Linked DNA regions of Homo sapiens. The protein of the gene in region 3 purifies or fractionates together with the protein of the main gene of each other region. This does not show direct contact. Each region holds a gene or a part of one and is shown on either strand. Other genes may lie near its edges. The genes, in order: MFN2, MFN1, BAK1 and VDAC2.

Region 1 (7,203 bases), on a different chromosome or scaffold from region 3:
ATAGTTTCTGGCAGCACTTCCCAAAGCGTGGTCCACAGAACTCGACTTGCACCCAATATCCCATGTAAAGAAGGTTCAATAGTAGAATCAGTTTGTAAAACACCATATGCTAGGCCAGGCGCGGTGGCTCACGCCTGTAATCCCAGCACTCTGGGAGGCCGAGGTGGGTAGATCACAAGGTCAGGAGTTCGAGACCATCCTGGCTAACACGGTGAAACCCCATCTCTACTAAAACTACAAAAAATTAGCCAGGCATGGCAGCATGCACCTGTAGTACAGCTACTCGGGAGGCTGAGGCAGGAGGATAGTGTGAACCTGGGAGGCAGAGCTTGCAGTGAGCCAAGATCACGCCACTGCAAGATCGCGCCACTGCACTCCAGCCTGGGTGACAGAGCAAGACTCTGTCTCAAAAAAAACAAAAAACAAACAAACAAACAAAAAACACCATATGCTACCATTTTCCTCAGTGGAGCACGTGAGCACAGCAAAAGAGTTTGGGAAGGAAGCCTTGTTGTAAAGACACTAGTTTAACTGTGTTGAATTCAGCATTTCACAAATATAATCAATGAAAAAACCCTTCTGTGTAATAGCTTTTAAAATCCCGAGGATCACACTTTAGGGAAAAGCCCACTCTTTCTGGTACTCTCCTGCCCCTACCCCTAAAAAGTGCCAGGGCACAGTATTAATAAATATTAACCTAAGACCAGAAATGAACCCAGTTCTAAATGGAAACTGCTATTAGCCCTCCAAGGTGGTCAACAGCTTTGCCTCAACCTAGGCTATTCGTTGAGGAGTATTAGGTATCTTGGGTGTAGAGACAGCAGTAGCAAAATTCACTGCAAGGTGTGTTTGGATCCCAAGCACAGTCCCTGAATCCACACCACCTCCTTACCCAGTGTTATGTACAGCAACTCCTAGCAGGGAAAATAAAATGGATCCACGGATCGTCTGCTGGCACAACTGGAAAAGAGGAGAAGCTGAGAAATCGAAACAAAAAGAGTATACAGGGTAAAGGGGACAGAGCAGAGTCTTAAAAGAGCAGTGACAAGGAGCCAACCTGTGCTGGGCCGAGATGGGGAAGAGCCAGCACAGCAGAGACCAAATGAGGGAGACAGAGACTAACTCTTCAGGGAGCCCAAGAGATCCCAGCCACTTCTGAACTGTCAACTTTTAAACAGGCTCTCTAAGCAACCAGCGAAATCCTTCACGGAAGTAAAAGATACGGTAGTTTTTCAACACAAGTTAGAAAGCTGTGGCTCTATACAAAGAGGATGCCATTCAAGAGACTTGCCACCAGAGGTCCAGGAGAGCACACCCCTGTCCACTCAGCTCAAATCCAGGGTGCCAGAAGTCACAGCTACTACTTACTTTTTTGGATGGTGAGAGATCTTCACAGGGTAGGCATCATGGACATGGCTGAAGTCCAAAAGACAAAAAGATTCTGAGTTCTCTTCTGTCCTGTCTCAGGTTGAGGTTGGCTATTGATTGACTGTGTTGACTCCACCAGTCCTGACTTATTAGAAAAGAAAAGGGAGATGGATCCGGTGTCCAAAAAAAAAAAACACTGGTGTACAAAACATGTCTAATCAGGTTTCAAGCCAAACAAACTCATCCCTGAGGGAAGCTTACTCATTGAGGTATTGGGGAGTTGCGCTGGCATGTGAGGAAGTGCCCTGGGGAAAAAAACGCAGAGGTGTGGGACCAATCCTGACTGTGCACACGTATTCCGCCATGTGCGGGTTTGAGGCACCACGGAGGTCCCTGCAGGAGCCCTGGGAAAGGTACATCCAGAGAGGGGAGAAGAGGACAGAGCAAAACTAGGAACAAAACTGGGCTTGAGGACTGTGGAACAGCTGACTATTGAGGAACAGAAGAACTGACTGAAAGCCAATGTGTTCAGCTACTGTAAAGTATCTCACTTAATTCTCTATTCTGTGGGACAGAGGGCTGGAATACTTGAAGATTTGTCTAAGCTGGGATCTGAAATATTAGCTCCCTTTGACTCCAAAGCTCCTGGAGTGCAGCAGCGCGATCTCGGCTCAACCTCCGCCTCCCGGGTTCAAGCGATTCTCCTGCCTCAGCCTCCTGAGTAGATGGGATTACAGGCGTGTGCCAGCAAGCCCGGCTAGTTTTTGGTTTTAGCACAGACGGGGTTTCACCATGTTGGCCAGGCTGGTCTCCAACTCCTGACCTCAGGTGATCCGCCCGCCTCAGCCTCCCAAAGTGCTGGGATTACAGGTGTGATCCACTGCGACCGGCCTCCTTCCTTTTTTAACTACATTGAGCTGCCTTCCTCCCCCAAGCCCCAAACCTTGGGACACCAGAGGCGGATAACCAGAGCCCTTTTCTGGGTAGAAAAGAGATAACCAGAGCCCTTTTCTGGGTAGAAGAGAGAGAGATGATTGAGAATTTAAAGAGGGCAATGAAGGATTACGAGAGGGGGTAACGGGCAGTTCTGCCTTCGTGCGTCTTAACAGCTATTTATTCAACATTTTCTGTGTGCCTTCTCTGTGTGTGTCAGGCGCCACGTTAGAAATGGATAAGAAACAGTCCTGCCCTCCAGGGCCTTACAGTCCGGTGAGAAGTCATATAAGTAAACAGGGCTGAACGAGAAGGCAGTAACTGCCCAAAGTGGGGATGGCAGGGCGCTCCCGCGGTGAACGTGGACACCTATCAGGTGCTGAGTAAATGCTGGCAAAATGAAGACAGGATGAAAAATAGAGAAGGGGCAGGGGTAGAACATGGCCGTGAAGGGTGGAAAGGCGGGGGCGATGAGAAGCTACAGGGGACCCCACCGACCAGTCCCAGGTCCCGTGGCCCGCCCCCTCCTCTCAGGGCCGGGGAGGGCCCGGCGGCGAGGCCGGAGAGTGGGGACCCCGCTTGACTGCATCCCAGACCCCCGTGGCCCCAGAATCCCGTCGGCCCACGCCGAGCTGCTCAGGACTCGCCGGGCCGGGCCGGGCCAGTCCCCGCCACCCCGGCTTGCTCGCCCTCTCACCTTCACCTTCCCGGCCTCGCGGCGGCCATCACACTCACTACGTCACCAGCGAGCGCCACCCCAGGGGGAGGCGGGAGGAGGGAAGTGGATAAGCGCGTCACCAGTCGCCTCAGATTGCCCCTCGACCCGGGTGAGCTGGTGGACCCTGAGCCCAGCCGGCTCGCCCCGCCTACTCCTTACGCCTCTGCTGCCCCGCGACTCGGCGCTTCGAGCGGCGTCTCAGCGCGCCACTCCTCCGCGCGCCACTCCTCCGCCGGCGCGTCCCAAGCGGACGACGCAGAGGCTCGGACTCCCACTGCATCATGGGGGCTGTAGTTCCGGTGGGCGTCGGCCGGAGCTGGGGGGGCGGGGCAAAGCGGGGCGGAGCCTCAAGCTGTCAAGGGGCGAAAAACCAAGGGCGTGGAGTAGAGGTTCCCGCTTTTTCGCCGGTTGTCCTAGAGCCTGACCCTGGGGCCTCTGCCAGCTCTGGAATCCAGATTTGCATTCTGTAATCTTAGAGGAGTGTTCTCTAGAGGGCCAGGCCTAGGGTGAAGTGACTCATCGGGCAGACAGAAGCGAGCATGGGCCTGCTGCCCTTCAGTCGCCTTTGAGGAAAGAAGAGCAGCAACAACGGCGAATCAATGCCAGTGACTGAACTGCGTCTCTAACATCCACCGCTGTATTTAACGTCCACAGCAGTCCCAGGAGAGGGAGAGGAGAGGTTACCCAAGCTCACATGGTTACCCAGATCACCGGGCCCCAGTGATGCGGCAGACACTACTAGGAAACCGCAGCAAACAGATCCCTTGCAGGACTTGGCCTCCGCAGAGAAGGCTCCAAGCCTGAGCGCGCCAGAACAGTAGGCACTAGCCACGTGTGGCTCTCGAGTCCTGAGCCAGTGCAAACGGAGATGCGCTATAAGACTTAGGACAAAAAAGGCTGTTAAACTATCTCAATTTTTAGGAAAAAAAAATATCGACCGGGCGCGGTGGCTCAAGCCTGTAATTCCAGCATTTTAGGAGGGCGAGGCGGGTGCATCGGGAGTTCAAGACCAGCCTGGCCAACATGGTGAAACCCCGTCTGTACTAAAAATACAAAAATTAGCCAGGCATGATAGTGCACTCGGGAGGAAGAGGCAGGAGAATCGCTTGAACACGGGCGGTGGAGGTTGCAGTGAGCCGAGATCATGCCACTGCACTCCAGCCTGGGCAACAGAGACTCCGTCTCAAAAAAGAAAAAAAAAATCTATCTTTGAGCCAGAGTCTCACTCTCACTCAAGCTGGAGTGCAGTGGTGCAATCACGGCTCACTGCAGCCTCGAACTCCTGGGCTCAAGTAATCCTCCCACCTCACTCAGCCTCCCAAGTAGCTGACCACAGATGCTGCAGCCATGCCTAGTATTTATCTTTTGTAGACATGGGGAAGCATTTCACTTTGTTACCCAGGCTGGTGTCCTGAACTCCTGGACTCCTGGAGTCAAGCAATCTTCTCCTGCCTCGGCTTCCCAAAATGCCGGGTTACAGGTACCTGCCACAGTGCAGGGCTATTAGCCCATTACTATTTATATGCTGACTACATGTTGAAGTGATAATATTTTGGGTCATTTGGGTTAAATACATTACTAAGATTAATTGCACCTGTTTCTTTTTAAAAATGTCGCTACTAGAAAATTTAAAATTACATAAGTAGCTTGCATTTGTGGGTCAAACTGTAATTCTGTGGGATGGTGCTGCTCTATAACCATGGTAGAACAACCTCAATTTATTGCCACAAACAACCTCAAGAGGCAAATCAGTACTCTGATATAGAAGTGACTGGTTTATCAGTCTCATGACGATGGCCAAAGGGAGCTGTCCTGCCCACACTGCCCTCTGAGTAGCCTAGTGCCCCGCGGGTCTGACTGTGGACTGTGGGGCCACACGCAGACTCAGCCTCAGGGTGTAGACAGGGCCCTGTCTGGGATGTAGCGTGCCTTGGGGCCTCAGCTGCTAGCTGCCTGGTACTGGGTCGGATTGTTTCCTCCTCCACAATCTCTGGACTCCCTAAGGAGAGGAACTCTAAATTCCACTTCCATTCTCTGAGGGCAGGAACTATAAATTCCATTTCCTCTTTTTTTTTTTTTTTCTTTTTTTTTGAGAAAGAGTCTCGCTCTCACTCTGTTGCCCAGACTGGAGCTCAGTGGCACCATCTTGGCTCACCGCAACCTCCGCCTCAGGCAATTCTCCCGCCTCAGTCTCCCCACTAGCTGGGATTACAGGCGTGCACCACCATGCCTGGCTAATTTTTGTATTTTTAGTAGAGATGGGGTTTCACCATGTTGGCCAGGCTGGTCTCAAACTCCTGACCTCAGGTGATCCACCCGCCTCAGCCTCCCAAAGTGCTGGGATTACAGGTGTGAGCCACCACGCCCAGCCTTCCTTTTCCTTTTTAGCAGAATCTTGCCCGTCAGGTGAAAGCCTGGATGTTCTCTCTCCTAAACATCTCCCCTGCCCACTCCCTCCTCTTCCCTAAATTTCCCTGCAAGCATTGGTCTAGGTCCTGGTCACTTGCCTGGACTGCTGTAGGAACCTCTGAATCCATTCCCAGGCATTTAGTCTTGTACTCTGCCCAGCAGCTGGGCTTTATCTCTGAAACACATCTGCATACTTGCCCAGCAAGTAGAGGAAATCTCAGTTTGGAGATATGTTTCAACCCATTAACATGTGTTTCTCATTGAGATGGCTGAATCCTCGTTTCAACCCTCGGGATGACAAAACTCTCCTAGCAGTGCTGAGTGTTATTGGGAATGGGTGCAGAGCACACTGATGTACAACTCCAGGAGACCTTTCTTTCTTACGTTTTTGTTTTTTTTTTTAAGACAAGAGTCTTGCTCTCTCACCCAGGCTGGAGTGCAGTGGCACAATCTCAACTCACTACAACCTCTGCCTCCCGGGTTCAAGCGATTCTCGTGCTGCAGCCTCCTGAGTAGTTGGGTTTACAGGCATGTGCCATAAAGCCCACCTTATTTTTGTATTTTTAATAGAGACAGGGTTTTGCCATGTTGGCCATGCTGGTTGAGAATTCCTGGCCTCAAGTGATCCTACCACCTCAGCCTCCCAAAGCGCTGGGATTACAGGCATGAGCCACTGCACCCGGTCCATATTACTTTTTGTTGTTGTTGTTGTTGACAGGTTATTGCTCTGTCACCCACGCTGGAGTGTAGTGGTGCAATCTTGGCTCACTGCAACCTCCACCTCCCAGGTTCAAGTGATTCTCCCAGCTCAGCCTCCCAAGTAGCTGGGATTACAGGCACCTGCCACCACACCTGGCTAATTTTTGTATTTTTTTGTAGAGATGGGGGTTTTGCCATGTTGGCCAGGCTGGTCTCAAACTCTTGACCACAAGTGATCCACCCGCCTCAGCCTCCCAAAGTACTGGGATTACAGATGTGAGCCACAGCATCCGGCCCCCCATGTTACCTATTTTGTTTGACTTTTTCATGGTGAAGATGAGTTTGTAATCAGAAAAAAGTTAACAGTTAAAAACAACCCTATGCCGGGCACAGTGGCTCACACCTGTAATGCCAGCACTTTGGGAGGCCGAGGCAGGTGGATCATCTGAGGTCAGGAGTTGGAGACCACCGTGGCCAACATGGTGAAACCTCATATCTACTAAAAATACAAAAACTAGCTGGGCGTGGTGGCGGGTGCCTGTAATCCCAGCTACTCGGGAAGCTGAGGCACGAGAATTGCTTGAACCCGGGAGGCAGAGGTTGCAGTGAGCCGAGATCATGCCATTGCACTCCAGCCTGGGCGACAGAGTGAGACTCCATCTCAAAAACAAAAACAAAAATAACCCTAACATACACAAACACACACACAGGCTTGTGTCGGCACAAACCAGCTCAAGAACGTTCAAAAAACAGATTAGACATGGTGGCTTTCAGAGAGAGGAACTGAGCAGCTGGGGGGAAAGGATGACAGAAAGATTAAGATTTGTGCTGTTTGAATTTACAATGAGTCAATTTTGAAAATGAAAAGACTAAAAAATCTTTTTTTTTTTTTAATTGAGATGGAGTCTTGCTCTGTCACCCAGACTGGAGTGCAGTGGCCCAATCTTGGCTCATTGCAACCTCCACCACCTGGGTTCAAGCGATTCTCCTGCCTCAGCCTCCCGAGTAGCTGGGATTACAGGCGCATGCCAACACAACCGGCTGATTTTTTCATATTATTAGTAGAGACAGGGTTT
Region 2 (7,039 bases), on a different chromosome or scaffold from region 3:
TGCAGTCATAGGAAAAAGGACACTTTTGATGGCTCTGAAATGCAAAGAACTCACACTCACTTCAGGGACTTGCTTTCCATTAAGTCAACCCAAGTCCCAGATATCACTGGGAGCCTTTTGGTTCACTGCAAAAGCATCCTATCTTTTCGGCATATGTTTTACCTCTTTCCTTTAGCATAAGAGGGAAAGAACTTTTCTTTATGTTATGGATATCATTCCCAACTCCCTTCCCAGGGAACCTTCTTGCCTTCATTAGCTCAACATTGGCTTCTATTGCCAATATACCACATCCTGCAAGGATGCCTAGGATCTCTCTTAAGATTTATCTTTCTGGACATTTCATGAAGCCTTGCAGTGATCCTCAAGAGTAGTTCTGAAACCATCCCCATAGGGTTAACAAGAATTACATGCCGGGGTCTGGACAGAAATATGGCTGTAGCTCATTAATAATCAGGCTGCACTTTGGCCCACTTCCTTGTTGCTAAATGTCATGTAACACCAGATACTGACCATTTGCACCCCCATTCTTTCTATAGACAGGAGCTCTGACATTAGAATCGTAACACTTTTAAGGATAGCTTAAGATGTTTTTTGGGCCCCCAGATCCAGCAACCAGTTTGAAGACCCCCCACAGAGGAATGATATGGATCAGCATGCGAATACAGCCTAGCCTTATTATCTCCCTGTCCCATGACTTCACTCTGCAAGTTGCAACCAATCAACGACCTCTACACTTTGGGTACTCCAAAAACCTTAAAAACCCTAACCTCAAATTCCTTGGGGAGATGGATTAAGGTTCCCCCCCATCTCCTCATTTGGTGACCCTACGATTAAACCTCTTCTCTGCTGCAACCTGGTGTCTCAGCATATCAACTTGCTGCATACATTGGGTGATGGACCTCCTATAGTTACAGTTTGGGTCCCTCCACCCCATATAAGAATCATCTGGGGAGCCCATTAATGATGCAGATTCCTCAAGTGAACTGTGAACCTAAAGAATCAAGACTCTGGGGATGCTCTTGGGATGATTCTTATGCATACTAAAGTGAGACACACTGTCACCCTGCCTTCCCAAAACGAACAAAAAAAACAACTGTGGAAATAGAAACTTTTTCTCCTCTACTATCAAAATCAACACAGAACACTTCATAACTAGATATATGGGGATTTTTCCACATGCATGAAGTGGTTCTCCAGCAAACACCAACTGGGTGTCCTATCATTCATTTCTACCTCTTCCCATCTTGGTTCAATGTCAGAATAGCTCACAGAACTCAGGGAAGCACTATACTTACATTTACTGGTTCATTATAAAGGATATTGTAAGTGACACAGATGAGATGCCTGAGCATTCATGCCCTCTCAGCATGCCACTCTCCCAGCGTAACCATGAGTTTAGTTACCTGGAAGTCCAATCATGTTCAAGAGTTTTCATAAAGCCTAATTTTCAGCCTGTCCTCCCCCACCCTTCCTGGAAATGGGTGGGTGGGAAGGAAAGTTCCAGTCCTCTAATCCCCTGATCACTTAACCTTTCAGGTGACTGGTCACCCTCTGAGGTTATCTAGGCACCCCACCCTAAACCACTCATTAGCATAAATTCAGTTGTCATTAAAAAGGGCTCATTATGAAAACAAGATACTCCAATCACTCAGGGAATTCCTATGGTTTTAGAAGCTCTGTGACAAGAATGGGACAAAGATCAAATATATTTCTTTTTATACCATACCAATGCTTTCTAATTTTCCTTTTACCTGGCTGGCATTTTTTTTTCTTGTTTGAGATGGAGTCTCCTTCTGTGGCCCAGGCTGGAGTGCAGTGGTGCGATGTAAGCTCACTGCAACCTGCACCTCCTGAGTTCAAGTGATTCTCCTGCCAAGGCCTCCCAAGTAGCTGGGATTACAGGAGTGCACCACCACACCCAGTTAATTTTTCTATTTTTGGTAGAGACAGGGATTCACCATGTTGGCCAGCCTGGTCTCAAACTCCTGACCTCAGGTGATCCACCTGCCTCGGCCTCCCAAAGTGCTGGGATTATAGGTGTGAGCCACCACGCCTGGCCCCTGGCTGGCATTTCCATGGATAGTCCCTCTTCCTCTCCCCAGTGCTGTCATTGTTTTTCATTACACACTCTCCCTGGATCATCTCATCAACTCCTGTGATCTCAATCACCAACATAAGCCAATAATTCCTAAATTTCCTAGAATTCTCCCTAGTCCAAGTCTCATATTTCCAACTGCCTTTTTGGTAACTATACTTGAATATATATAGTTGTATTAAACACACACAATTTCCTGCCTATACTACTGTCAGAGGTGTTTGAAGCAGAGCAACTCCATCTTGAACAGGGGCTGGTTAAAATGAGGATGAGACCTACTGGGCTGCATTCCCAGGAGATGAGGCATTTTAAGTCACAGAATGAGATAGGAGGTTGGCACAATATACAGGTCACAAAGACCTTGCTGATAAAAGAAGTGGCCAAATCCCACCAAAACCAAGATGGCGATGAAAGTGACCTCTGGTCGTCCTCACTGCTCATTGTAATATATATATTATATGTATATAATACATACAGTTTAGATGCCATGGCAACATCCAGAATGGATGCATATATGGGCTAAAAAGGGGAGGTACCAGCTGGGCACGGGGGCTCACACCTGTAATCCCAGCACTTTGGGAGGCCGAGGTGGGTGGATGGCCTGAGGTCAGGAGTTCGAGACCAGGCTGGCCAACATGGTGAAATCCCATCTCTACAAATAATACAAAAATTAGCTGGGTGTGGTGGTGCACTCCTGTAATCCCAGCTACTATAGGGAGGCTGAGGCAGGAGAATCGCTTGAAGCCGGGAGGCAGAGGTTGCAGTGAGCCAAGATCACGCCACTGCGCTCCAGCCTGGGTGACAAGAGTGAAATTCTGTCTCCCAAAAAAAGAAAAAGTGGGGGACAGGTACCAACCCTCAGTTCTGGGAATTGCCTACCCGTTACCTGGAAAACTCATGAATAATCCACCCTTTGTTTGGCATACAATCAAGAAATAACCATAAAAATACCAAAGCAGCAGTTCTCGGGACTGATCTGCCTATGCAGCAGCCATTCTTTATTCCTTTATTTTCTTAATAAACTTGCTTTCACTTTATGGACCCATCCGGAATTCCTTCTTGCGCAAGGTCCAAGAACCCTCTCTTGGGGTTAGGAGTGGGGCCCCTTTCTGGTAACATTATCACAACTGCCTCCTACCCCTGTTCTCATTCAATTCATTCTCCCCATTATATCTAAGGTTATAATTGTAACATCCAATCCTCTCAGGACTATTTTCCAAAATAAAAGAATGCAGAACGCCTTACCATGATATATTAATACAAGGTCTTTTACAATCTGACTTTTGCTTACAAAGTCTCTTCTTTTGCTATTGTTTCGTAACACCTTAAATTCAACTACTTGAGTTCTCCAAACACACTGTGGTCTCCCTACCCCTTTCTATTTATGGCTTTCTGCAAGAAATGAGCTTTTGGACCTTTTTCACATCCAAAGCTATACCTATTTCTCATTCTCAGTAGGACAGTTGAGTCATCACCTTCCCAGGAGGCTCTTCCTTCCTACTCCACCCTAATCTGAAGTAGGATCTTTTTAAATGGAGCTGTCTCATGCCAGACTCTGTGTAAGGCCCTGAGAATATGGTCAAATGGGAGAAGCAGAAAATAAAAACATAAAATAAGAGCTTTGTGAAAAGTGTTGAAAGACATTAAGAGGATGCTTTAACAGAAAATAACTGAGAAGGAATAATTTAGATAGGGTGGTCAGAGAAGGTGTCCAAGGTAGTAACATTTAGGATGAAATATGAAGAATGAGAAGGCACTAGACGTAGCTACAACAAGGAAAGGTGAGTTGTAGGCAAAGGGAATTGCAAGGGCAAAAGCCCTACGATGGGAAAATAGCTTAGAAGGCCTATGAAGTTATTTAGTAAATAAATGCCTCTGTTGGTACACAGCACAGATAGCTGAATAACCAGTTATGGAGCTAGTCATTTGTCTTTGCATATAAGCTGTGGCAGAGATCACCCTATCACTCTGGACTGTTACACCAATGTACGCCTCCTACTCTCCCTCTAGGAATGATGGAGTTGAAAATTTTGGAAGACGTACCTGATCACTGCCTTTTTCTCCCCGCCATAATCCAGATAATTGTCAAACTTAAGAAAGACACTAAAGAAAATCACCTCTAAATTAGCCAGGTACAGTGGCTCACGCCTGTAATCCCAGCACTTTGGGAGGCCGAGGTGAGTGGTTCACTTGAGGTCAGGAGTTTGAGACCAGCCTGGCCAACATGGTGAAACCCTATCTCTAATAAAAATATAAAAATTATGCTGGGGCCAGGCGCGGTGGCTCACGCCTGTAATCCCAGCACTTTGGGAGGTCGAGGTGGGCGGATTGCCTGGGCTCAGTAGTTCGAGACCAGCCTGGGCAACATGGTGAAACCCCATCTCTACTAAAATACAAAAAAAAAAAAAAAAAATTAGCCAGGTGTGGCAGCACACGCCTGTAGTCCCAGCTACTAGGGAGGCTGAGGCAGGAGAATTGCTTGAACCCGGGAGGCGGAGGTTGCAGTGAGCCGAGATGGTGCCACTGCACTCCAACCTGGCAACGGACTGAGACTCTGTCTCAAAAAAAAAAAAAAAAATTTAGGCTGGATGCGGTGGCTCACGCCTGTAATTCCAACACTTTGGGAGGCCAAGGCGGGTGGATCACCTGAGGTCAGGAGTTCAAGACTAGCCTGGCCAATATGGTGAAACCCCACCTCTACTAAAAATACAAAAATTAGCCAGGTATGGTGGCACACGCCTATAATTCCAGCTACTAGGGAGGCTGAGGCAGGAGAATCGCTTGAACCCGGGATGTGGAGGTTGCAGCGAGCCGAGATTGTGCCACTGCACTCCAGCGTGGGAGACAGAGTGAGACTCCCTCTCAGGGGGAAAAAAAAAATGCTGAGTTTACTTGGGAATCAAAAATAAAGATTATAATCTGGAATGCATGGAATGGCATACCAGTGCATTCAGTGAGGGTAAGAGGGGTTTCTATTAGCAAAAAGAGATTTACATAAGCTGCCTAGAAACAAGAGTTATTTGGTTCCAGAGGTTCAACGCCAGTTATTGTCAGTTCATTGGCGGAGATGCCATTACTGGGCAAGAACTCTCCTGAAAACATTTTATCTGAATTAAGGCAGTCCTAAAGTATGTTTATTGATAAGTCTTATCAAAGCAGGAGATTTGAAAGAATTTCTAGAAAGTCCTTGGAAATAGTTATCTCAGACAAGAGCCTCTTTCCTTCTAGGCCTGTCTAGGTATGACAAAAGTGATTTCATCCTAGCTTCTGAAACTTTCACATAATCAAGTAAACTTAAAAGAGTAAAACACAAAGTATGCTTATCATTTATCTATATTTCCATTCTTAAAACTGTCTACAAGCCAATTCTTAGAGATGAGAATCATTAAAAGGTAAAAATATGATTGACTTTCATAAAGCTTCATTTTATACCAGGAGGTAAAATGCACAAATTCTTTCACATGCTAACAGCTTTAACATTCAACACAGGCAGAAACTTGCGGGGCTGGGGGAGGATGGGAGAAATATTACTTGTTGAAACATCAGACACAAAGCTGATTCCTGGAAACTAATCTTAGAAGTAATAATAAATAATTACCTGCCAAAAAATGCCACCTTCATGTGTCTCCGAGATAGCACCTCACCAATGATGGAAAGCTTGTCTTTATATCCTTGCATTTCTACCAGATCATCTTCAGTGGCTATTCGATCAAGTTCCGGATTCTTATATGTTGCTGCAAAATTGAAATGGCATTAGAAAAGTGATATAAATGAATATTAAGTTAGTTATATAATGGAATACCTAAGATTGTATGTATTTTTGCTTTATGTTAACATGCCACCCACAGCATCTCAATGTTTGGTAAAAGGTGCATACTCCGTGGCAATGGGTCACAAGAATCCCGCCCAAAAGAATTTCAAGAATATTAAAAGTTGCAAGGGCACAGTCAAAAGTGGACTTCTAGGTCTCAAACATACAAGCTACCCTTGAGACAAGAATACATTTCTAAAGAGAGAAACTAGAACCTAACACTGACCTATTATTGTTCCAACCTGACTGAATGGATCTTCAGATCTTGAGCTCAGAAGGGGGAGCCACATACTGAGAGAAAAAAGTGAGGTTTGAATAGGAGCCCCTCAGAAATTAAGATACAGTGCAAGGTCTCCAAGCTAGGAAAGACCTTGCTACTTTACCACGTTCTATCTGCTTCCCCCAGGGATGAGGTGAAACAGCTCACTTAACACAAAGACAGAGAAGAAAGAGAATTACAGGTTGTATCCTATCTACAGCCATACCACCCTGAATGCACTCGATCTCATCAGATTGTATCCCACTTTCACTCTTATCAGGTTTAGGGTTTAACCGCACATCCCAGCCCTCACCTCTCCTCCATGGCTGGAGGTAGTTGAAAAAGCCTGGGTTTGAAAAATAGAAAAATCTTTCAGTTTTTTTTATAACTCAGGAATAGGAGATAACCTGATGTTTACATTCTTATCACCTCTTTTTGAAGGTAAAGACATGAAGATTCATGTGGGCGTGGGGGCTCACGCCTATAATCCTAGCACTTTGGGAGGCCGAAGTGGGCAGATCCCTTGAGGTCAGGAGTTCATGACCAGCCTGAACAATATGGTAAAACACCATCTCTACTAAAAGTACAAAAATTAGCTGGAAATCACTTGAATCCGGAGGCAGAGTTTGCAGTGAGCCGAGATGGTGCCACTGCACTCCAACCTGGGTGACAGAGTGAGACATCGTCTCAAAAAAACAAAAACAAAAACAAAAAGATTCATCTGGCTATCTGAATGACCCTAATTAGAGACAAACACTGCCACTTAAAACTTCTCCAGTGCACATCCAATTAAGCTTCTCATATCTCACCATACTTTTCTAACGCATTAATAAAATATGTGCAATTTGGTGAATAACGGACAGACTGGTTTAAG
Region 3 (5,225 bases):
GGTACCCATAGGGACTCCCAAGCAGCATAAAACTAGAATGAAAGCCCTGCGTGTGTGCTGACTGTGGAGACATCAGGAAGGGGGAGCTGGGACATTGTGTCCCAGGCAGAGCTAAATGTGGGGGAGAAGGGCCTTTTGGACCAGCGTGGGTGGTAGCCCCAGGGTGGGAGAAGAATTCAGCCCAGGTCAGAGGTAGCCTGTGGGGGTCCTCAGATATGTGCAGCTGCTCCACCAGCTCTGTAGCTAAAGGACCTCCCAGACTTCCTAAAGGGTGGAAACTGCATGAAACCCAACGAGATGAGAGAAGTTCATGGGGAGGGGCGAACGCCTTCCATCGGAGTGGGGGCTGCAGAACCATACTCAGGCCTCTATGGGATTCTAGAGGCCTAGTGTGAGGTTTTATTCAGTAATAAGCCAGATGTATGCCAGGCGTGCCCAGGTTCCCACAGTCTGGCCTGATGGAAAGAGGGGTAGCAGAGAATACAAAAACTAAGTCAGGGTGAGGGGATTGCACAGTTTATTTCCAAACACTCAGAGGATAGGGGGTGGCCTATGGGCTCCATCTGCCTCCCCTCCCTGCATTTGGCTGAATCAAGAACTTCTCCCCCCTGACCCCCAAGACCCTAGGCTGTGCCCAATAGAGAAGGCACTGTCACCCCCCACCCTGAGGAGACCTAGACAGGTGAGGAGCATGGAGGGTGGGGGAACAGAGTTCAAGTATTCACAGTTCCCCCATCTACACCCCTGGATTACACTGTGCCAGAGCCATGAGGGAGGATCCCACCTCTGGGATTCCTAGTGGTGTTGATAGTCCTTCTCCCACTTAGAACCCTCCAGATGAACTCCCTACTCCTTTTCCCTGATATAACAAACCAAGTCCTAAGCCCTGTAGTCTGGGCAAGGAGGAGCCTTAGCAGGCCACTCACCCAAGGCCCCCAGGGATGGGGGTGAGAGCCTTCACCTGTAGTGAATGGGTTGGGAGCAAGTGTCTATAAGGAGAGAGGAAGGGAGAGAACTGAGAGGACCTTGGGAGGCAGGCTTGGAGGCTTCTGACACGTGAGTTCAGACAGCTCTGGTCTGCGACTCCACCCCACCCCACACCCCAAGCCCAGAATCCCTGAGAGTCCAACTGCAAAGGCAGTATGGCCGGAGGGAGGAATGGGAGCAGGGGTAGAGTTGAGCAGGACCTTGGCCCCCCTCTCCTAGTAGGTCCTGCTCCTGGGACACATGCTTAGGGACGGCCAGGACCAGGCTCAGGTCCTAGTCCCATCTCTTAGGGTGCTGATCTTCCAGAATAGCTGAATCCTGGGGAACATAGACCCACCAATCCCCACACCCCAGACGTCCTGGCCTCAGGTAGAATGGTGGGAATGGGCTCTCACAAGGGTATTATAAAAAGCTAAAACCGTTAAACACTTTCTGGGGAGAAGTGGCTCCCAGTCTCTTGCCTCCCCAAGTTATCAGTCTCCCCAGCGCCTAGCAGACAGGGCTAAGGAGGTCCCAGAGAGCTGAGGGAGGAGACGGCCACAGCCCCTGGGCCCAGAGAGAGGGCCCACTAGCACCATGCAATGTTGAGGTGCCTCTGCAGCCTGACTGGCCCCCACGCAGGGGCCCTCCGAAGCTGGAGTGCACACTTGCTAAAGCTTCTGTACTCTTGAGGGGGGACCCCTGCAAGGGAACAGAGAAGGCAAAGACTTCGCTTAAGTCCAGGCAGGGGTCTGAACCGGGACCCCAAAGGGCACCCTTGGGAGTCATGATTTGAAGAATCTTCGTACCACAAACTGGCCCAACAGAACCACACCCAGAACCACCAGCACGTTCAGGATGGGACCATTGCCCAAGTTCAGGGCTGCCACCTGCCGGGAGAAACAAGGTGGTCACAGAGAGGCTAGCAGAAGATATAGGAACCCGAGGAAGGGGTGGGGCCTGGGAGAGGGGCAGCCCCAACAGCAGGGAGGACATTGCAGTCCTTGGATACTCACCCAGCCACCCCTCTGTGCAATCCACCGGGCAATGCAGTGATGCAGCATGAAGTCGACCACGAAGCGGGTCACCTGGCCTAGGAAGCCAGTCAGGCCATGCTGGTAGACGTGTAGGGCCAGACGGTAGCCGAAGCCCAGAAGAGCCACCACACGGCCCCAATTGATGCCACTCTCAAACAGGCTGTGGGCAGAGCATCCCATAGCATTGGTGGAGAGCCCCCAGGAAGCCCTTCAGCCTGCCTGGCCTCTCCCACCCCTCTCCCAGCTGGAAGCTAAATAGCTTAGCTGTGAATTAAGGCCGCAGAGGCTGCCCCAACCTGGCCTGTATTTGGGAACAACCTGGGTCTCTGCGAAAGGAGAAAGCTCAGGGGCAGATGAGCTGGATGCCACTGCTGGGGTGTACGCTCAGGTGCAACGGGGCACAGAGAGGGCAGAGGGCAGAGCAAGTGGATGGAGTCAGCGGGGAGATTACCTGTGGGTGTTGCTGCTGGCCTGGCAGCCCGAGGGACAGCAGAGAGAAAAGGACAGAAAAGATTAGGGTAGTTCCTGTCATCACAGTGGTATGAAGGCTGGCCTCTAAGTTCACGGACTGGATATTTCAGCTCTGAGCACTAATTCTAAAATCTATCACTTACTCCTACCTTCACCTCCAGTTTCAAATCTACTCCGACACTGACTTCCCTAACTCTGGTGGTAGCAATGGCTAACACTTTGTAAGGTGGACACTAATCTAAGCATATTTTCCCTATTTTACAAACCAGGAGACTAAGGGCTAGGAAGCTTCACGAAGGCAGTAAGTGGCAAAGCTTGGATTTGCACCCAAATATTCGGTGTCTTTAACCACTTGGATGCCAGATTATAGCAAGTAGGAGCCATTTCTAGGACCTGGCAGAGGTTAGCACCCTCACCATCTTCAGTGTGATATGTGGTTTCAAATTGGAACTATGAAGGACAGCTATGTCCCAGCTGGGCTGGGGAGCTGTGGGGGACGTCCCCACCTCAGGCCCCCTCTAGAGTCCTGATCTAACCAGTCAAGACCTTGGAGTCAGAGCTCAAAAGAGCTGTGAGCTAATGCCCAAAATACAAGTCTGGGACCCCGAAAGAGAAAAATAGGGGGCCGAGACCACATGTGAGTTCACAGCAGACATTGGACACTGACAGAAGGCTTCTCCCCATGCCAGGAGAGCATCATGCAGGCAGGGTATGGTATGGTTGTGACATGACAGAGGAGTGACTGGAGCTGGCAGGGAGGTGGCTGGGGTACCTGGTGGCAATCTTGGTGAAGTACTCATAGGCATTCTCTGCCGTGGGCTGCAGGTGCTGCAACATGGTCTGGAACTCTGAGTCATAGCGTCGGTTGATGTCGTCCCCGATGATGGCGAGCTGCCGTCCCACCTGCCCCATGGTGCTGTAGGAGCAGGAGGCATGCAGGTGAGCCAGTAACCAGGCAGTCGGGACCAGGCCCTGGCTCATGGCAGAGGGGTTCTGCCTGAGCTGTCCATGGCCCTGTGCATCCCTTCTTGGAGGTCCCTGACAGTGTTCTAAGACATGAGTGCTGGGCTCCAGGAGAAGGGGCAGGCATGGGCTAAAAAGGATACAAGGTCCTGGATGGGGGTGGGAGCCCAACATAAAAGAGGAGCAACCATGAGAGAAGGGCAAGACCCCCGAGGCCTCCCCAGCTCCCAGGACCTGCACAGAGACCCATGCGAGCTACTGCCTCCCTGAAGATGTCCTTGTGGGCCCAGCGGTTGTAGCTCACCTGCTAGGTTGCAGAGGTAAGGTGACCATCTCTGGGTCGGCAGGGGCAGCCACCCCTTCAGCCTCCTGTTCCTGCTGATGGCGGTAAAAAACGTAGCTGCGGAAAACCTCCTCTGTGTCCTGGGCTACCTGCTCCTCTGAGGATCAAAGCTGGGAGTCAGGGAGAGAGGGCCGAACCCTGGCAGCCCCATGCCTTATAGGGGATTCACTCTTCCTAAGGCCATAGCTGTCCTCACCCATGGAAAGAAATATCCCAACCAGGTGCGGTGGCTCACGCCTATAATCCCAGCACTTTGGGAGGCCGAGGTGGGCAGATCACCTGAGGTCGGGAGTTCAAGACCAGCCTGACCAACATGGAGAAACTCTGTCTCTACTAAAAATACAAAATTAGCCGGGTGTGGTGGCACATGCCTGTAATCCCACCTACTCAAGAAGAGGCTGAGGCAGGAGAATTACTTGACCCCGGGAGGCGGAGGTTGCGGTGAGCGGAGATCGTGCCACTGCACTCCAGCCTAGGCAACAAGAGCGAAACTCTGTCTCAAAAAAAAAAAAAAAATGGCCGGGTGTGGTGGCTCATGCCTGTAATCCCAGCACTTTGGGAGGCCAAGGCGGGCGGATCACGAGGTCAGGAGATTGAGACCATCCTGGCTAACATGGTGAAACCCCGTCTCTACTAAACAAAATACAAAAAATTAGCCAGGCGTGGTGGGAGGCGCCTGTAGTCCCAGCTACTCGGGAGGCTGAGGCAGGAGAATGGCGTGAACCCGGGAGTTGGAGCTTGCAGTGAGCCTAGATCACGCCACTGCACTCCAGCCTGGGCAATAGAGCGAGACTCCATCTCAAAAAACAAAACAAAACAAAACAACAACAACAAAAAAAACAAAAAAAAAAAAAAGAAAAGAAATATCCCTACTTCAGCACCTTAGCCGCCCCTAGAGCTTATGCTGTGTGGAGAGTTGTTCCGGCACTTGCATTGAGTCCTCACAGTAGCCCTGGGAGCAGGCAATCCCCAGCTGGCAGGGGGAAAATGGCACAGGGTGTCTGAGTAACGTGTGCAAGGTCATACAGCCAGAACAAGCCGGGGAACCGGGACAGTCCCGGGCATTTGGGGTCCTGAGTCTACATTAGTACATCTCAGCTCCGCAGCCCTTTGCGTGCAGGGAAATGTGGGAAACAAAATCTGAATTTGTAGCTGCGGCCCAGAAAAGTCACACAGGGAGATAGTGACAGACCTGGGACCTGATTCCCAAGTCCAGGGAACAGCCCGCCGTGAGGTGTGAGCTGGGGCTTCCCTGGCTATCCCCTGGGAAGAGGGAAGGAGGGCAGCCATCTTACTTCCTCCCCAAGTCACAATAATTGCGTTCCCTGTTGAGCAGACCTGACTGGGTGATTGGCCAGCTTACTTCCTTATTTCTCCCGCTGGAGGGATACAGCAGCCAGGCCCCACTCTAATTCCTGCCTCCCTCGCCCGTGACCCAGCCCTCT
Region 4 (7,039 bases), on a different chromosome or scaffold from region 3:
GCAAAATCAAAGTCAACATCACAACCAAGGTTTATACACTCCCTCTTGTAAGAAGACTTGATTTTACCACTTTTCTTTCTGGAAAAAGAACAAACTGATGTCATTGGGAAAAATTTACACACACTTCTGCACAAGAGAGCACAAAACAGACTTAAATAAACTGCAGTATGACCAGGGAGTAAAAATCAGCAATACAATAACAGGGAGTAAAAAAGTCAGCTCAATGAACTACAAGACAAGGACACATGAAGCAACTGGACAGCCATCTAGGAAAACTGCTTTGCAGAACAAACAATCAGTCACAAAAGCCTGTTAGAAACACATTAGTTGCCCAAGTTAGTGCAACAACAAAGAGGCAAATATTTGAAGGCAAGCCAATGATAGCAACCATAGTATTCTAAAAGCAGATATGGGCCAGGCATGGTGGCTCCCGCCTGTAATCTCAGCACTTTGGGAGGCTGAGGCGGGCGGATCACCTGAGGTCAGGAGTTTAAGATCAGCCTGGCCAGCATGGTGAAATCCCGTCTCTACTAAAAATACAAAAAAATTTAGCCAGGCACGGTGGCATATGCCTGTAATCCCAGCTACTCAGGAGGCTGAGGCAGGAGAATCGCTTCAACCCAGGAGGCAGAGGTTGCAGTGAGCCAAGATCGCACCATTGCACTCCAGCCTGGGTGACAGAGAATAAACAAACAGGCTGCGAGCGGTGGCTCACACCTGTAATCCCAGCACTTTGGGAGGCTGAGGTGGGCAGATCACGAGGTCAGGAGTTCAAGACCAGCCTGATCAACACGGTGAAACCCTGTCTCTACCAAAAATACAAAAATTAGGTGGGCGTGGTGGCACATGCCTGTGATCCCAGCTACTCAGGAGGCTGAGGCAGGAGAATCACTTAAACCCGGGAGGCAGAGGTTGCAGTGAGCCGAGATCGCGCCACTGCACTCCAGCCTGTGTGACAGAGTAAGACTCTGTCCCAAATGAAAATAAAATAAAATAAAATAAATACAATAAAATAAAATATGGAAAAAAAAAAAAAGGCTGGGCGTGGTGGCTCATGCCTGTAATCCCACCACTCTGGGAGGCCAAGGTGGGCAGATCACCTGAGGTCAGGAGTTCCAGGACAGCCTGGCCAACATGGCGAAACCCCGCCTCTACTAAAAATACAAAAATTAGCTGGGCGTGGTGGCACGCACCTGTAGTCCCAGCTACTCAGGGAGGCAGAGGCAGAAGAATCGCTTGAACCCAGGAAGCTGAGACTGCAGTGAGCCAAGATGATGCCACTGCACTCCAGCCTGGGTGACACAGCAAAGACTCCATCTCAAATAAATAAATAAAAGCAGATACAGAGATTTCACCACCACAAGGTAGCTTAATAAGCTATCAAACAGTAAATGTACACCTTTTCTAAATATACAAAAGAGAAATACTTTTAAATGTAATACAGATAAAAATGTCTGTGCTTACCCTGTGTTTGGTGAGAAGGTAGTATCAAATGTCAGTTTCAAACCTTGACAAATCTATTTTGAAAGAAAAGTAATTTGTTTTCTTTTTTTGAAATACAAAAATAAATTAATAAAATTAATACTAAAATTTTCAAAATGTTACCTGGTCTTCAATTGCGATTTCTGTTCCCAGAGTGTTATCAGTGTTCCACTTTTCTGTGAAAGTCAGACCATACTCACACCACTTGTATTTGGTCTCCAAGGTCCCAGTAACTTTACCAGTGTCTGTATTAGATGAACCGGACGTTGAAAATTCCTAACAAGACAATCAATAACTTCATGAACATTCTCATAAGCCTAGAATTCATCACTGCCTTACACACGCACACACACACAAACCCCCTGAAACATTTGGTAAATTCATGAATCCTTTTTCTAGCTTCCTAAACACTCGTATCCTTCTGCACTGTGCTACTCTCTAAGCATATATAAGAGTGACAAATAAGCCTTTGAGCAACTGACTGCCACTTTACATACACAGCTGACACTTCCAATCAATCACAAGTTAACCTGTAGTGAATTCTCAAGTGAACAAACTGTACACCTTTTTTTTTTTTTGAGACAGAGTCCCGCTCTATCGCCAGGCTGGAGTGCAGTGGCGTGATCTCGGCATACTGCAACCTCCGCCTTCCAGGTTCAAGTGATTCTCCTGCCTCAGCCTTCCAAGTAGCTGGGATTACAGGTGCCCGCCACCACACCCAGCTGATTTTTGTATTTTTAGTACAGATGGAGTTTCACCATGTTGGTCAGGCTGGTCTCCAACTCCTGACCTCAGGTGATCCACCCACCTCGGCCTCCCAAAGTGTTGGGATTACAAACGTAAGCCACCACCCCAGCTAACTGTACATCTTTTAAGGAAGGTTTTGCTAAGGTGATTTTATTTGGGATTCAAAAATCAATGGGGGACTGAGTGTGGTGGCTCATGCCTGTGATCCCAGCACTTAGATACCAGCCTGGGCAACATAGCAAGACCATGTCTCTACAAAAATTAAGAAACCAGCTCAGCGTGGTGGTGTGCGCCTGTAGTCCCAGCTACTCAGGAGGCAGAGGTGGGAGGACTGCTTGAGCCTGGGAGGTCCAGGCTGCAGTGAGCCATAATCCCACCACTGCACTCAGCATGGGTGACACAGTGAGACCCTGTCTAAAAATAATAATGTGCCAATCCCTGGTTGCACACGAACTGAAAAAGAAAAAATACGGAGGGCTTATCTGAATTTTTTTTTTTTTTTTGAGACAGCATCTTGCCTCTGTCACCCAAGCTGGAACACAATGATGTGATCACAGCTGACTGCAGCCTCAACCTCCCAGGCTCAAGTGATCCACGTACCTCAGCCTCCTGAGTAGCTGGGATCACAAGCATCACCACGCCAAGCCTAAGGAAGACAGCTGATGTGAAAATAATAAAGAGACTACAGCCAGAAATTGTGATATCTGTAGAGTGAGAAATATCAAAAATTGTATCAATAGGAGGAAAGGCCAGTCAACCTTCTCTCAGAAAATAGAACATTTGTATAACTATTGCTCTGCTGTTAGAGACAAATCCTTAGGTCTTACATCACTCTCCTAAATTAGACCCTTTCATTAACAGGAATTTCAAGTCAAAGCATAGCCCTCAATACCTATACTAAAAAGCACTGGACTGGCTGGGTGTGGTGGGTCACACCTGTAATCCCAGCACTTCAGGAGGCCAAGGCGGGCCGATCACTTGAGGTAGGGAGTTTGAGACCAGCCTAGCCAACATGGTGAAACCCCGTCTCTACTAAACATACAAAAATTAGCCGGGCATGGTGGTGCATCCCTGTAATCCCAGCTACTCAGGAGTCTGAGGCAGGAAAATCACTTGAACCTGAGAACCTGAGGTTGCAGTGAGCCAAGATGGCACCACTGCACTCTAGCTTGAGTGATGGAGTGAGTGAGACTCCATTTCCAATTAAACAAAAAAGCACTGGATCATGTTAGGAAACACTAGATATAAAAATTAGGAGTTCTGATGTCCAGTTCTTCGTGTCATTTACTAAATGCATCACACTGAGCAGGACACAACATTTTGCGGTTTTTTTTGGAGACAGGGTCTCACTCTGTCGCCCAGGTTGGAGTACAGTGCCACAGTCATAGCTCACTGCAGCCTCAAACTCCTGGGCTCAAGCGATCCTCCTATCTCAGCCTCCCAAGTAGCTGGGACTTCAGGTACCCACCAACAAGCACAGCTAATTTTTAAATTTTTTTGTAGAGACGGGGTCTCACTATGTTGCCCAGGTGAGTCTCAGAACTCCTGGGCTCAAGGGATCCTCCTGCCTTGGCCTCCCAAAGCGCTGGGATTACAGGAATGAGCCACTGTGACCAGCCTCACTTAACTTTTTTGGGTCTGTTTCTGCAACTATAATTACAAAGCCTACCTCCGAATGATTAAATTGAACTGACACTGTGAAAGTTTGTACGTTTTCATATGCTCCACAGAAAAGGAAAGCATTACTAAAACAATATATATGGAACAGGTTTTTCTAGCAGTTTGAATGGGGAATGTGTGAGTAGCTATTTTTAATCCTGAATGACATTAATGACTCTTGGGGCCCCACCTACGGCCATTCATCAGCCCACAGATCAAGAGCCAGCCTATATACACATGCCAAGGAAGCCTCAAGAAACAAAGCCAACACCACCCTGTGGGACCAGAGTTGGGCCAGATTACAGCTCATACCCTTTACCACCAGAAATTTTGGCTTCTACATTCTGGGGTGGCTTCAGTAGCTTTGCTGTTCAGGTAAGAAAACAGAGCCAGGTATTAATGGGACTTATCTGGGGCCAGAGACATACTATAGGATCAATACCATGGTTGTTGAGTTACATGTATTAAATGTGAATAAAAACATGCTATATCTAATCCAGCTCCTACATATCCTTCATGCTCTTAAACCTACTTCCATAAAACTTTCCCTAACCCTATACACAACAATCTATTCCTTTCCAACAAAGATTTGATTATCCAACGATCTAATATTTGATATTAATTACCTCAGTACTCTCAGTTTATTTTGTCTCTCCAACTAGAAAGTAAGCTTTTTAAACACAAGGACTGAATCTTTTTTAGAAGGCCTTTTGTGTTTCAACAAATACACTAGGGGCCTCAATAGACTAACAATGGGAACATTAAAAAACACTAAAAATCACTGCTCTGTAACCTGTTAACTTGGCCAAATAAGTCATCCAATCATAACTAAACACCTAAGCTTCCTTTCAGACCAAAAAAACCAAGCGACAGATATGATCAATGTAAATCCCCAGAAATCCAACAGGCCTAGGCTTTTAAACTACAGGGCTAGCGCTGTGGCTCACGCCTGTAATCCCAACACTTTGGGATCACTTGAGGTCAGGAGTTTAAGACCAGACTGGCCAACATGGCAAAACCCTGTTTCTACTAAAAATACAAAAATTAGCGGGGCATGGTGGCAAGCACCTGTAATCCCAGCTACTTGGGAGGCTGAGGCCGGAGAATCACTTGAACCTGGGAGGTGGAGGATGCAGTGAGCTGAGATCATGCCACTGCACTCCAGCCTGGGCGACAGAGCAAGACTGCGTCTCAGAGGAAAAAAAAAAAAACAAAACAAAAAAACTACAATACGATTAAATAAATATCAGTTACATGCACTACATCAAAAATGTCTATATAGGCCGGGCGCGGTGGCTCACGCCTGTAATCCCAGCACTTTGGGAGCCCGAGGTGGGCAGATCATGAGGTCAGGAGATTGAGACCATCCTGGCTAACATGGTGAAACCCCATCTCTACTAAAAATACAAAAAAATTAGCTGGGCGTGGTGGCCCGTGTCTGTAGTTTCAGCTACTCATGAGGCTGAGGCAGGAGAAAGGCATGAACCTGGGAGGTGGAGCTTGCAGTGAGCTGAGATCATGCCACTGCACTCCAGCCTGGGTGACAGTGCAAGACTCCGTCTCAAAAAAAAAAAAAGTCTCTCTCTCTCTATATATATACATACATACATATATCAAAATAACCTATAGTATTCTAATGTGCACACACACCCACCCCTAAAATAATCTCAAAACAAAAATTTTTTAAGTAAAAAAAATTTCACAAAGTTAAATTTTACTAGCTGGGCATGGTGGCTCACATCTGTAATCCCAGCACTTTGGGAGGCCAAGGCAAGTGGATCACTTGAGCTCAGGAGTTCAAGACTAGCCTGGGCAACATGGCAAAACGTCATCTCTAGAAAAACTACAAAAAATACTCAGGCATGATGGATACGGCCTGTACTCCCAGATGCTTGGGAGGCTGAGGTGGGAAGATTGCTTGAGCCCAAGAGGTCGAGGCTGCAGTGAGCTGAGATTGTGCCACTGCACTCACTGCACTCCAGCCTGGGCAACCGAGTGAGACCCTGTCTCGAAAAAAGTTAAATATTAGTTTATCCCCTTTGTAAACAGTTCATTGAACTATCAAGACACCCAAATACCAAAATATTAACCTCTTTAAAAATATTCTTGGCTGGGCATGGTGACTCACACCTGTAATCCCAGCACTCTGGGAGGCCAAGGTGGGTGGATCACCTGAGGTCAGGAGTTGGAGACCAGCCTGGCCAACATGGTGAAACCCCAGCTCTACTAAAAATACAAAAATCAGTCAGGCGTGGTGGCAGGCACCTGTAATTCCAGCTACTAGAGAGGCTGAGGCAAGAGAATCACCTGAACTCAGGAGGCGGAGGTTGCAGTGAGCCACAATCACACCATTGCACTCCAGTCTAAGTGACACAGTGAGACTCCGTCTCAAAAAAAAAAAATTCAGATCAGGACTCCCTAAACTCATAAAATACATGTGGAAATCTTCTCCAGGGAGAACTGCTAGAAAATGGACATTATATAAATGATTAGTACACTCAAATTAATGAGTTCCTGATATTTTTATGCCCATAACTCTGACGAGCATTGTTGACAAAGGGTTACAAAAAAGTCTAATAATGGGTTCCCTGCCTTCAAATGTGTAATCTTACGAGTAAAGAGTACCACCTGACTGGTCTTTCCTAAGTTCCTTGTGCATACATAATATGACGAAAGACCACATGAAAATCAGAAATCACATTCAAGGCCAAAATAAATCAGGTTACACGCAAATCTCTTAAAACAAAGTTAACTTCTGCCTCTTCTTTAAGACAAAACAGGTAGACATCTTTCAGTTATGACCATTTTACAAGTTGAAAAATTATAAAGGTTCAATAGAACTTATTCAACAGTAACACTCACCACGCCACTGCAAGACTTTGTTTTCACATCCAGTTTCACCAACCCAAAACCTTCAACAAATAGACAGCAAAAGAAACAAAATGATTCCTTTGTATGAAAGATGCATAGCAATTGTTGACTATACATAAAAAACAAAAAGATTCCACATATTCAGAGGTGGATAAAAATGTGTTAATATACAATATTTAAATGAAATTGTTACAAATTCGTCTTTTGTAAACTGGCTTATAAAGGGCAGAATTATCCCTATGCTGCTTTGTCTAGTTTTTGGTAGTTGGTACACAAAAGA

The links.
Region 1: the proteins of BAK1 (region 3) and MFN2 purify together in Homo sapiens (co-immunoprecipitation; 2 studies listed by IntAct). This does not show direct contact.
Region 2: the proteins of BAK1 (region 3) and MFN1 purify together in Homo sapiens (co-immunoprecipitation; 2 studies listed by IntAct). This does not show direct contact.
Region 4: the proteins of BAK1 (region 3) and VDAC2 purify together in Homo sapiens (affinity purification with western blotting; 2 studies listed by BioGRID and IntAct, with this or other methods). This does not show direct contact.

Annotation. Positions count from the first base shown.
Region 1 is NC_000001.11:11,976,280-11,983,482, reverse strand, and holds the start of MFN2 (mitofusin-2), read right to left. Parts: upstream 3,040-7,203; 5' UTR 2,999-3,039; intron 1,674-2,998; exon of another isoform or gene 1,630-1,673; intron 1,514-1,629; 5' UTR 1,369-1,513; intron 961-1,368; exon of another isoform or gene 893-960; intron 1-892. UniProt on the Homo sapiens protein: Mitochondrial outer membrane GTPase that mediates mitochondrial clustering and fusion. Mitochondria are highly dynamic organelles, and their morphology is determined by the equilibrium between mitochondrial fusion and fission events.
Region 2 is NC_000003.12:179,350,690-179,357,728, reverse strand, and holds part of MFN1 (mitofusin-1), read right to left. Parts: intron 5,830-7,039; coding exon 5,694-5,829; intron 1-5,693. UniProt on the Homo sapiens protein: Mitochondrial outer membrane GTPase that mediates mitochondrial clustering and fusion. Membrane clustering requires GTPase activity. It may involve a major rearrangement of the coiled coil domains.
Region 3 is NC_000006.12:33,572,052-33,577,276, forward strand, and holds the end of BAK1 (bcl-2 homologous antagonist/killer), read right to left. Parts: intron 3,878-5,225; coding exon 3,742-3,877; intron 3,391-3,741; coding exon 3,247-3,390; intron 2,475-3,246; coding exon of another isoform or gene 2,264-2,474; exon of another isoform or gene 2,170-2,263; intron 2,164-2,169; coding exon 1,983-2,163; intron 1,857-1,982; coding exon 1,752-1,856; 3' UTR 501-1,751; downstream 1-500. UniProt on the Homo sapiens protein: Plays a role in the mitochondrial apoptotic process. Upon arrival of cell death signals, promotes mitochondrial outer membrane (MOM) permeabilization by oligomerizing to form pores within the MOM.
Region 4 is NC_000010.11:75,213,782-75,220,820, reverse strand, and holds part of VDAC2 (non-selective voltage-gated ion channel VDAC2), read right to left. Parts: intron 6,801-7,039; coding exon 6,751-6,800; intron 2,934-6,750; exon of another isoform or gene 2,863-2,933; coding exon of another isoform or gene 2,830-2,862; intron 1,759-2,829; coding exon 1,606-1,758; intron 1,518-1,605; coding exon 1,465-1,517; intron 79-1,464; coding exon 1-78. UniProt on the Homo sapiens protein: Non-selective voltage-gated ion channel that mediates the transport of anions and cations through the mitochondrion outer membrane and plasma membrane.